Homo sapiens: one gene and its partners. The protein of the gene in region 1 purifies or fractionates together with the protein of each later gene. This does not show direct contact. Each region holds a gene or a part of one and is shown on either strand. Other genes may lie near its edges.

What was found.
Region 2: the proteins of LYPD2 (region 1) and LONP2 purify together in Homo sapiens (affinity purification with mass spectrometry; one large-scale study listed by BioGRID and IntAct). This does not show direct contact.
Region 3: the proteins of LYPD2 (region 1) and CARS2 purify together in Homo sapiens (affinity purification with mass spectrometry; one large-scale study listed by BioGRID and IntAct). This does not show direct contact.

What each region holds. Positions count from the first base shown.
Region 1 is NC_000008.11:142,749,733-142,753,800, forward strand, and holds LYPD2 (ly6/PLAUR domain-containing protein 2 precursor), read right to left. Parts: upstream 2,801-4,068; 5' UTR 2,720-2,800; coding exon 2,662-2,719; intron 1,439-2,661; coding exon 1,319-1,438; intron 751-1,318; coding exon 551-750; 3' UTR 418-550; downstream 1-417.
Region 2 is NC_000016.10:48,345,300-48,348,799, reverse strand, and holds part of LONP2 (lon protease homolog 2, peroxisomal), read right to left. Parts: exon of another isoform or gene 1,889-3,500; intron 1,294-1,888; coding exon 1,086-1,293; intron 701-1,085; coding exon 510-700; intron 1-509. UniProt on the Homo sapiens protein: ATP-dependent serine protease that mediates the selective degradation of misfolded and unassembled polypeptides in the peroxisomal matrix.
Region 3 is NC_000013.11:110,664,617-110,668,116, forward strand, and holds part of CARS2 (probable cysteine--tRNA ligase, mitochondrial), read right to left. Parts: intron 2,858-3,500; coding exon 2,724-2,857; intron 2,313-2,723; coding exon of another isoform or gene 2,155-2,312; exon of another isoform or gene 912-2,154; intron 1-911. UniProt on the Homo sapiens protein: Mitochondrial cysteine-specific aminoacyl-tRNA synthetase that catalyzes the ATP-dependent ligation of cysteine to tRNA(Cys). In addition to its role as an aminoacyl-tRNA synthetase, has also cysteine persulfide synthase activity.

The sequences.
Region 1 (4,068 bases):
TCTCCTCCTCAAAGCAGCCTCCGCCATCAGCCTTGGGGCAAGGCCCTGCTCAGGCTGGGGAGGTGGGTAGTGGGGTGCTCCAGAGGACAACCCCAGCTCCTGGTCACTGCCTTGACCTTCCTTCCACCTGACATGCCTTGCCCTCCTCAAGGCCTGCCAGATCTCTCCATCCTTCAAGGCTTGGCCCTAATGCCCCCTCCTCCAAGGAGATGGCCCTGACTTCACCCTGGTAGATGTGGTGCTCCCTTGCCGAAGGGTCTCAGCTGCTGCCCCACCCTGGTCAGGCCCCCACATCCCCTGAGGGCAGAGATCTGCATGGTTTGTGTGGGGGTCCCAGGCCCAGTGGCTGTTCTCACGATGGGATAGAGCTTAACATCACAGGAAGGCAGGAAGAGAGACAGACACACAGGAACGGGGACATCGACGAGGTCAGAGATGCAGCAGGGCAGGTCTGTGCCCAGAAAGGAGACTCAGGAGTCCTGGTGCAGGGGGCACTTCTTCAAGGCATTCGGGGCTGGGCCGCATAGGGCCATGGGGGTGGGCGGGGACTCTACAGTCGGAGGCTCAAGAGTGGGAGGAGCGTGAGGGCCCCGCAGTGGAGGCTGTTCAGAGCGGGCGCCCCGTCTACATTGCACAGCTCAGTATTGCAGCAGGACACGGGCAGGGTCTGGCCGATGCCATCCACATCCGAGGGCTTACACTTGCTGGCACAGGACTTGGTCACCGTGGAGTCCCCCTGGAAGGGGTACACTGTGGGGTGTGGGAAGAGTCAGCCGTCAGGGCTGGTCACTGCCTCCAAGCCCTGGTCCCTGCCAGTACCACCTCATGCAGGCCCCACTCTGGGGTCACCCACCCGGGTCTCCGTCCCTCCTGGCCCAGTGCCCTCCTCTTCCTCTCTCCTCCCACCGACGTTGTCCGGGTGTCTACCATGTGCCAGGCACCCGGCCTGATGGGGCAGTTCCCGCCCCGAGGTGACTGTTGAAACCAAAGCCTGTAAGTGTGCCCAGCTTCTCCAGTCCCCCCAAAACGAGGTTGCAGATATGTTCCCACCGAAGGACATGAGGGAGAGAGGAAGGAAGGGGAGGGCAGAGGGAGGCCTAGCTCGGGCAGAAAGCCATTTCTGGAGATGGGTGAGGTGGTGGCTGTGCACTGGGGCCAAGCTGGCTGGTGGTGACTGGGCTGGAGGTGGCTCTGACCGGGAACCCAGCCCTGCCCGCCTTCCGTGCTCACTGCCCTATCTCCTGGGAGTAGAGTGTGACTGGGCTGGAGGTGGCTCTGACCGGGAACCCGGCCCTGCCCGCCTTCTGTGCCCACTGACCTATCTCCCGGGAGTAGAGTGTGGTCTTGCACATGGTTTCGTTGGTGGTGCAGGTGGCGATGGTGACACAGTCCGACACTCCTGTGGGCTCCGGACAGACGTAGCAGCGCAGGGCCGGCGCTGGGGAGAAGGGACAAGGGCGGTCAGGCAGGCTCCACCCCTCCCAAGCCCAGAGACAGTCTGTCCTGGAAGCCCAGGTCTGAAGAGGACAGTGACACTGGCCAGGGTAGAGATGCCTACCAGCCAAAACTCAGGAGCAATGCCAGGAGCCTGCAGCTGGGGACAGGCCGGGCTCAGCCTCGGAACCTTGCATCCCAGAGGCAGAGTCGGCTGCTGGGGGTGGGGATCCAGCCTGCAAGGCCTGGGAGGAGCCAAGCCAAGCCCCTTTGGAAGTGTTTGGGAGACTCAGGGGGACCAAGGCCCTGGCATCTTCATAGCAAGAGGCACCTCGGGCAGGAAGCCTTGGGTGGGGGCGTGGCTGGGGGCAGGTTACCCCCTCAGTTTCCCCATCAGGGAAGTGCTGCTGTGGAGGTCAAGGGATCAGGCCAGGAGGCCCATGGAATGCAGGGTGTGCCAGGCTGCATCCGGGCTGTGTCTGGGTGCCCACTCCTCTCCCACAGGGACTTGCAGACCGGCAGGGACGGGGACCGGAGAGGCTCCAATTCCCTCCTGCTCCGGTGACCCCGGCCCCAACCGCAGCAGCCCAGGTGGGTCTGGCTGGTTCCAGCTGGCCAGGGCAGCCAGCTGCACAGCTAGGCCCGACTCCTCTGTCCCCACTGTGGGGATGCAGCGGGGCCTCTGCCCCTCTCTGGTGCACCTGTTTCTGGGAAATGGGCAAAGCCATCTGCCAGGGGCCTCTGGGCCAAGCTGCTTCTGGTTGAGTCCAGGACATTGCCCCTGATGGTTGTTTCAGGCTCCACATCAGGGAGTCACCCCACCCCATGTGTCTGGTTTCCCCACTCCTCTCCATCTCTACTGCCACCCCAGCCTCAGAGCCTCCCTGGGGTTGCCTTCCTTCCCCCGCTCAAGGCCCTTCTGGGTGCCCATAGCCCCCCATAAAGTGTGACACCCAGGCTGGTGCTCAGGGGTGTGGCTGGCTGGGCCCCCGCCCACCTCGAAGGCCACCCTCTGCTCACCCTCATTAGGCGTCCCCCTCACCGCCAGCCCCTCTCTCCGTTTCCACCCTCCCCTCCTTATGGCGGGGGGGCCACACCCCCGGCCCCACAGCTCTGGCTTCTCCTGCCTCTGAGGCCCCTTCCTGGGGCGCCCTCCCGGGAACAGTGTGAATGTCAGTGGGTGGCATCTCCCTCCGTCCCAGCTCCCCTGTGGGTCCCACACCTCACCCAGCTCTCCGCAGGCAGCCAGCACCAGCGCCAGGAGCGCCAGCCGCGTCCCCCGCATGGTCCCGGCCCACTCCTCTGTGCTCTCACCCCAGGCTTGCCTGGCGGGGACAGCAGACACCAAGTGAGGTGGCGACAGACTGGTCTGCTGAGCGGATTAGTGGGGTAGAGTTTCCCCAGGGTGGAGGTGTGAAGACCCCGCCCCTCCAGGGGCTCCCCAGCCTTCCAGGCTGCTCCTCCCACTCCCAGCCTGGCCCTCTAGGCCCACCCCACCCAACTGGGACCCTCCCTGTCCCTTCCTCATTCCTCCAGTATCAGGCCGGTCCCCTCCCTGCCCTTTCCTGACCCCTCCAGCTCCCCGCCTCCGCCACCATGGCCTGGGGCCGCCCCTTCTTCCCTTTGTGGGGACCCTCCTTGACTCCTACACACCCTGTGCTCGGCTCTTCTCCCCACCCCCCTCATCCAGGAGAGCCCCCACTGGCTCACCCCAGGCAGCCCAGGGACCCCCCAGACTGCCTGGAAGGGGGCAGGGGAGTGTTACGGGCCACTCTCTGCTGCTGGCTCCTCAGGGATCCCTCCTGCCTCAGGTCATCTGTGTTCCAAGGCAGATCTGTGTGCTGGATCTTCCAAGATTCTGGGCTGGAATCTTTCCAGGAGGACCTTGGTCCCACCTCCGAGCTCCTTTGAGTGGTCAGGCTGGGTGTTGGGGGCCTGGGAGTGAACTGCCACCCGGACAGCCAGCTACAGGGTGTGCTCAGAGGCTTAAGGAGACAAATGCCAAAAACTACTGGGTCAGCAGAGAAGGTCCTGGATAGAGAGTGGGGTGGGGAGGAGCTGGGGTCTCTTGGGGGTGCTAATCCCATGCCCCCAGCCACCTGCCAGCTGGGTACCTTCATCTCTAACCTTCTGATAAAGCTGCCCTCAGGCAGGGCTTACCACCTCCTTGCAGGTAAGGAAATTGAGGGAAAGTTCCTTACCCGGGGCTCAGACAGGGGACAGTGATTTTGGGTTGGGATGCCTCAGACCATCTCCTGCTCAGCTCCCAGCTCCCCCCAAGGACATCCCCCCAGACTGCCTGCTCCAGCCTCCCCAGGTTGTGTCTGGTCTGTGATCCTGCCACCCCCTGCTCCCAGTCCTGCAGCTGCCAGTGTGTAGGGTGTGGGGGTTGGGGGAGGGATGTGTGACAAGCAGCCTGTGTCTTCCTGGGCCCTGGCGGTCAAGGCCATGATCTCAGCTAAGCCCAGACTCACACTGGAGCTCTTCAGCCTGAGCACCCAAATCCCACCTCATCCTGGTCTTTGCTCCTGCTGTTCCCACTGCCAGGAATGCCCTTCCCTCTTCTGTCCCAGTGTTTGAAATTCTGTCTTTGGTCGACCGCACTCTCCTGCCCGCACCCCCTCCCTGCCATGG
Region 2 (3,500 bases), on another chromosome or scaffold:
AACGTGGGCTGAATGTGGTGGCTCACGCCTGTAATCCCAGCACTTTGGGAGGTGGAGATGAGAGGACTGCATGAGACCTGGAGTTTGAGACAAGCCTGGACAACACAGAGAGACCCTGTCTCTACGCAAAATAAAATAAATTAGCTGAGCATGGTGGCGTGCTCCTATAGTCCCAGCTATTCGGGAGATAGACAGGAGGATCGCTTGAGCCCAGGACTTGGTGGCTATAGTGAGCTACAGTCACACCACTGCACTCCAGCCTGGGCAACAGAGTGAGACCTGTCTATTTCAAAAAAAAAAAAAAAAAAAAAAGGAAAATGTGAAAAATTGTCAGTTTTTCTTTTATTTGATCAAAATTTTAAAATATGAATTAGTTACAGGCATAAAAATATAATATATACTTAAAACCAAGGTTTTCATAGAAAGAAGGCAAACCCGTATTTAAAAATAATATTAATTTTCAAAAATTAAATAAAAAATAACCATATAAATTGTTTTTTCATACTTACTGGAAGAACAAGACCTCTCAGTGTAATTTCTCCAGTCATGGCTACATCTGAACGTACCAGCCGCCCACTAAAAAGTGAGGCGAGACAGGTTACTATGGTAACTCCAGCAGATGGTCCATCTTTTGTGACAGCTCCAGCTGGGAAGTGCAGATGGATGTCTGTGTTGTCAAGAAGATCAAAACTTCCAAAAGCTTTAAAAAGGAAAAAGGGACTTTAATGTAGAAAAATTAAACCTGTTTTCTTTTTCTCCTAAAAAAAAAGTCACAAACAAAAATGAATGTTTTGGGTAAATGAATTCTTCAAAATATTGGTGGACAGTACAATTTGGGTGAGGGTGTGGAAGAACAGTTCCATTCTACTCTAAGTCGTATTAAAACAAAATAAACCTTTTGAATTAGTTTCTAGTTCAGGCACTAGTCAAATAGTCCTGAAATGGGAACTAGGATTTCCACAGGGGTTCAAAACGGTGTGTACTTTGCTAGATGTGTAACTGGCAGTCTCGAGCTCATGCCAGTCTCCGCCATGGAAGGTACCGCCTCCTGGGTCACGCCTGCCTGGCCGGGTGCAGGCTCCTACCATTGGTCAGCTGGTACTTCTTTGCGTTGCTGCGGAGCCAGCTGATAGCGAGGTGGGCGGACTCCTTCATCACGTCCCCGAGCTGGCCGGTCAGAGTTAACTGGCCCTCGCCATCCATTCGACTCGCCTCCACGAACATGATTTCTCCACCTAAGGGAGTCCAAGCCAAACCTATTGCTACTCCTGGCTGACTCAAACGCTGAGATACCTTGAAAGAAGAAGAATGATCAGAGTTGGGTTGGCAAATGCTAAAGGTGACTGATACCACACAATCCTGCAAGAGTCGGCTGACTCCACAGAAGACTTCAGCCACTTACCTCAAAGTCCTTGTTACCTAACATGATTCTGCGTCACATTCAGCACTTACTCTCTGGCTTTCTGCCAGAAGAAAGACCTAAACTTCCTCTTTGACATTTATCAGAGGCAATTTTACCTTAAAATATATGTAAATAACTTTGCTTTTTATGAGCCAGATCTAGCTACACATGCCCTAGTTTTCAAGGAATAAACCCAATAGTTTTATCTAAGTATCTTTATTGGGCTGCAAATATATATATATTTTGAGACAGTCTCACTCCATTGCCCAGGCTTGAAGTACAGTGACACAATTTCAGCTCACTGAAAACTCTGCCTCCTGGCTTCAAGTGATTCTCCTGCCTCTGCCTCCCAAGTGGCTGGTACTATGGGCGCACACAGGCCACCACACCCGCTAATTTTTGTATTTTTTGTAGAGATGTGGTCTCACCATGTTGGCCAGACTGGTCTCAAACTCCTGACCTCAAGTGATCTGCCTGCCTCAGCCTCCCAAAGTGCTGGGATTACAGGTGTGAGCCACCACACCCAGCCTATTGGGCTGCATATTTATATATACTTCATAACCTAGCTTCATTTTAGGTAATCATGAATTTGTTTCAAAAAGTAGAAACCCTCTTACTAGCAGACCTTTAAGAAGAGTGAGCTTGGCCATGCAGAGTGGCTCATGCCTGTAATCCTAGCACTTTGGGAGGCTGAGACGACAGGATCGCTTGAGCCCAGGAGTTCGATAGAGACCAGTGTGGGCAACATGGTGAGACCCTCTTATTTTTTTTGAAAAGAAAAGTGAGAAGGGTTATATTAGAAACTCTAGATTTTACTTCTCCACCGCTTACCTTTAACTTTCTCTATTACTGCTGCAGAGACTATACAATACTACATAATAAACATCCTGGGTTCCTTCCCATGGGATGAGAGAGGTCCACTGTACTGCCTGCCATCTTAAATTGAACATGTTGTCACCTGAGACTAGGAGCATAGTTGATGGGCCATAGGTTAACACATCCAAGTTATGAAAACACTAAAAAGTAACAGTGGAAAATCAGTAATGTTAACTCTCATTACACCCTTTGAGCTTCAAAATTTCCTATCCAATAGAAGTTACTCATGTTAGAGGAACTGAACACAATAGGTCAACTAAGCACTAATCCAAACAGGAGATTTTTCTACTGAGAGTTGACCGTCTCACTAAGGAACAGCACTATACAGCTTGACTTTCTGGGTATGGGGCTGGGTTGCTTCTTTTTCTAAGGGGCTTGGACAATGAAATTCCTGATTGTAAAAATTATTCCAAAATTATGTGGCATCCATTGAAGCTATTGGGCACTTCTTTTCCTCTTTTTTTTTTTTTTTTTTTTGAGACATGAGTCTCACTCTGTCGCCTGGGCTGGAGTGCAATGGCACAATCTTGGCTCAATGCAACCTCCGCCTCCTGGGTTCAAGCAGTTCTCCTGCCTCAGGCTCCGAGTAGCTGGGATTACAGGCATGTATCACCACACCCAGCTAATTTTTGTATTTTTAATAGAGACAGTGTTTCGCCATGTTGGCCAGGCTGGTCTCAAACTCCTGACTTCAGGTGATCTGCCAGCCTCGGCCTCCCAAAGTGCTGGGATTACAGGCGTGAGCCTCTGCGTCTGGCCGAGCACTTATTTTCAGTAGTAAACATACATTAAAAAAAATTAATCCTAATTAACTTCATTTAACAGGTTAGAGATTTGAGAGGCCAAACTCCAGCATCAAGCTGACAGCATGTACCTCAGGTCACACTTTCCTCGAGCTTTGCCACTTGCCCTGTTCTATACTAACTTGAGGCGAAAGACACAAACGATCTATATGTAAGAGATCAGTACTACTTAAGGAAAATCATGAAACAGTTATTTATAAAACTGTTTACAAGGTTTGTTTTTTCTAATATAAAATCAATTCTCTATACCTGAATGACATACATCTAATTTGTGTGGGAATCTGTCACCCAAATTAGACTTCATTCAGGCTCCTTTCTAGGGTTGGGTGAATGAATCGTGTTTAACACAAAAAGTCATTTGGTACAATTTTGTTAACTCTACCAAGAATAATCCCTTTCTTATATTTGAATCCTCACAA
Region 3 (3,500 bases), on another chromosome or scaffold:
CACCAAGCACGATTCTGATTTTTTAAAATTGATGATAGTTGGAAAATAAAACACATTTGCTAAGGCCTGAATGTTTATGTCCTCCCAAATTCCTGTCAAAATCCTCAGCCCTCAGGTGACGGTAACTGAAGGCAGGGCCTGTGGGAGGTGATGAGGTCACAGGGGCAGAGCCAGTGTGAATGGAATCAGTGCTCTCATAACAGAGGCCCCTCGAGAGCTGACGGCCGTCTACAAATGGGAAGCAGGCCCTCCCGAGACACCGAGTCTGCCAGTGCGCTGACGCAGGACTCCCAGCCAGCAGAACTGTGAGGAATTCATTGCTGTTGTTCATAACACGCCCGCTTTCAGTTTGGCTATAGCAGCCCTAACAGGCTGGGATAGTGTCTGCCCACTTAGCTCTTCCATCCACTGGGTACAGGAGAACAGGTGTCACTTCTCCTGCGTCAGGAGACACTGATGTTTTGTTTGGGGCCAAACTAGTATGAAAAAGATCGCTGGTATCTTAACAGGTAGTAAAAAATCACTGAAAAATAGCCACAAAACTTTCCCACCACGTGCAGTGGCTCACGCCTATAATCCCAGCACTTTGGGAGGCAGAGGTGGCAGATCACTTGAGGTCAGGGGTTTGAGCCCAGCCTGGCCAACATGGTGAAACCCTGCTTCTACTAAAAATACAAAAATTAGCTGGGTATGGTGGTATGCACCTGTAGTCGCAGCTACTAGAACAGCTGAGGCAGGAGAATTGCTTGAACCCAGGAGGCAGAGGTTGCGGTGAGCTCAGATAGTGCCACTGCACTCCCAGGCTGGGGGACGGAGCGAAATTGTTTCAACAACAACAGCAAATGCTTTCCCATTCCCACATCGGAAGGTGAACACGACCTCCGTTTCTAGACCCGGCCCCTCCTCATTACCTGACAGGACGAAGCGTTGGCACAGCTAAGGCTGCCCTTCTTGCCCCCCAGCTCCACACTCGCAGAAGGGCTCACAGCAGGTCATGGTTGTCAGTAACAAACCCTGACCTACTGAACAGGATAAACCTGCAGACAGAAACGTGCCTGCGGAGGGAGCAACTCCAGCTCCTCAGACAGTTCAGGGAGCGCTGAACTGAGCCCTGAACGAAGTCAACGAGGAAGTGACTTCGGGGCAATCAGCCTCATCTATTTACTTTCATGAAGAAACCCAAGTGAACCCTGCTGCGGACCAGAAAACCGGAGCACTTCTGCATTTAATGTCACCTTACTGTGACATCTTAATTTCCCAATTCAAGGGTTTCAAAAACTAGTATTTGTTAATTTCCTGTATTTCAGATGTCAAAGTTTGCATCTCCAAATCTATCACTACCAAACACTCTTTATCTTTCTTCATCTGGGACAAGGGACACGACTACCTCTGTGCCTGAGACACAGTGTCTCAGCCCCACTATCTGGGCTCCCAGCACGCTTCCTCTCCAAGAACACAATTCAGAAGTCCTTGGGCCACGGAAGAGAGACCTCCTTCCCCATGGTCAAAAGTGGAGTGCAGGCCCCCGGCTGTGGAAATCAGTGCTCGGCTCCCTGAGGGGCGATGCCTTAAATATTCCACCACTGGGCAGCGTGCACCCCCTTCCCATGTGAGCGCCAGCTGAAACGGAAGTGAGGGCGGCAGGCGTTTGTTCTGATTAGAAACTCCACCGACACCGGAATAAAGTGGATTTCAGCTAGTGCTGAGCCCTCCCCAGGGAAATGGTATGGGGTGCTGGACAACAGCTCCTAAGTCCTCAAACAGCCACGCAGCCAGCTTTGTTTCTGCTTCATTTTTAGACAAAAACTGGGGCACTGTGAGAGGCAGACATAGTAGGTAATGGTAGGGGCAGAGCCGCCTGCTGGGTTCCCCGACTCAACAGGGTAAGCCCGGGGTGAAGGACATGCTGCAGGAAGTGACTTCGGGGCAATCAGCCTCATGTACTTTCACGAAGAAACCCAAGTGAACTCTGCTGCGGACCAGAAAACCAGAGCACTTCTGCACTTAATGTCACTTTACTGTGACATCCTAATTTCCCAATTCAAGGACTTCAAAAGATAGTATTTGTTAATTTTCTGTATTTTAGATGTCGAAGTTTGCATCTCCAAATCCTATCACTACCAAACACTCTTTATCTTTCTTCATCTCAAATACCTTAGCTGTCCATCCCCAAAAGGTAATAAGACTAGTTAATCGTGACCCTGTAAACTTGGAAATACGACTCTTCCAGTGCATCCAAGTGAATTCCAAAACTGCTGGGTTCGAGGTGTTGCTTAACTCATGGTGTTGCATCCACTTCTGAGAGCAGACAGCTGGGGTTCATCAGTTAGGTGTTTGAACAGTGGAAGAAAGGGCAATGTTATTAGAAGATGGCAGAGATGTCTAGTGACAACATTATAGCTTCAGAAAGGATGTTCATAATTATCGTTACATTGTACTACTTCAAGTTCCTTCTTAATAGTTTTACTTGAAAGAAACCTTATATAGAACAGCATTGCCAAACATTTTCCATATTCTAGTCAGTTCCAAAAAGGTATAATCATTGCTGCAATCCAAGGAAGCTCATGTTCAAATGATTGAAACTCAAAAATAATTTAAGAGGCAAATCCATTTCTTGACCTATTAGCTGATCTACTATGTATTTCCAAATGTAGCTGTTCCGCCGACAAAGACAGAACTGCTAGAATTGAAACAGAACAAATTAATCTGAAGTTATTACTTACCAGAATGCAGAAAATAATTTCCCCACTGCTCGCACTGATGAAAGACTTCGCACTGTGCAATTTCGTTTTCATGATGTGGAAAAGCTAAATCTATCCCACCTGAATGGATATCCAGTTGACTTCCAAATACCATACTGCAAGACACAGTGCAAAGTAGTGAATTCATTCAATCAAGCAACATATTTTCTTCTAACCTCGTCTATTTATTCCTTCCAGCCTTTTTAATTCAATGAATAAATGGATCTCAGTTTTGCATCAATTTGCATGATAATTTAACTGATTCAAATGAAAACTGAAATCCTGTCATCACAAGCCCGTAATTCATGACTTTTCATCCTAGTAAAGGCACTTAATTCTTTTTGCTCCAGGTTCTTTTTTTCTCTTTTTCTTTCTTTCTTTTTCAACTCAAAAAATTACCTTTACTTACTTTCAATAGGTAGAGTTTAGTGGTTTTCCAATTTTAACAAGAGATGGAACTATAAAATCATGACAGTGTTTCATTTGGCTTTTGCAAGTGTAACTAACAGTCACCTACGAATAACAAGGTAAGAGAGTTCAAAGCAACACAGGTTGCCATTTCTCCTACAGTGCTGTGCCATGCCTCCATAAAAACCGCGTTTCTGCAAACCCATACAAAAAAATTAATGGGGTTGATGGGGGAAATGAGGCTGGGCCAGCCCACTCGAAGCTCTGTCCCTGGACCAGCTGCAGAAGCATGGCGACGCAGCAGGCCGGTGGATTTTCTTAAAATGATAGATAGAGAAATTTCTAAGGTGC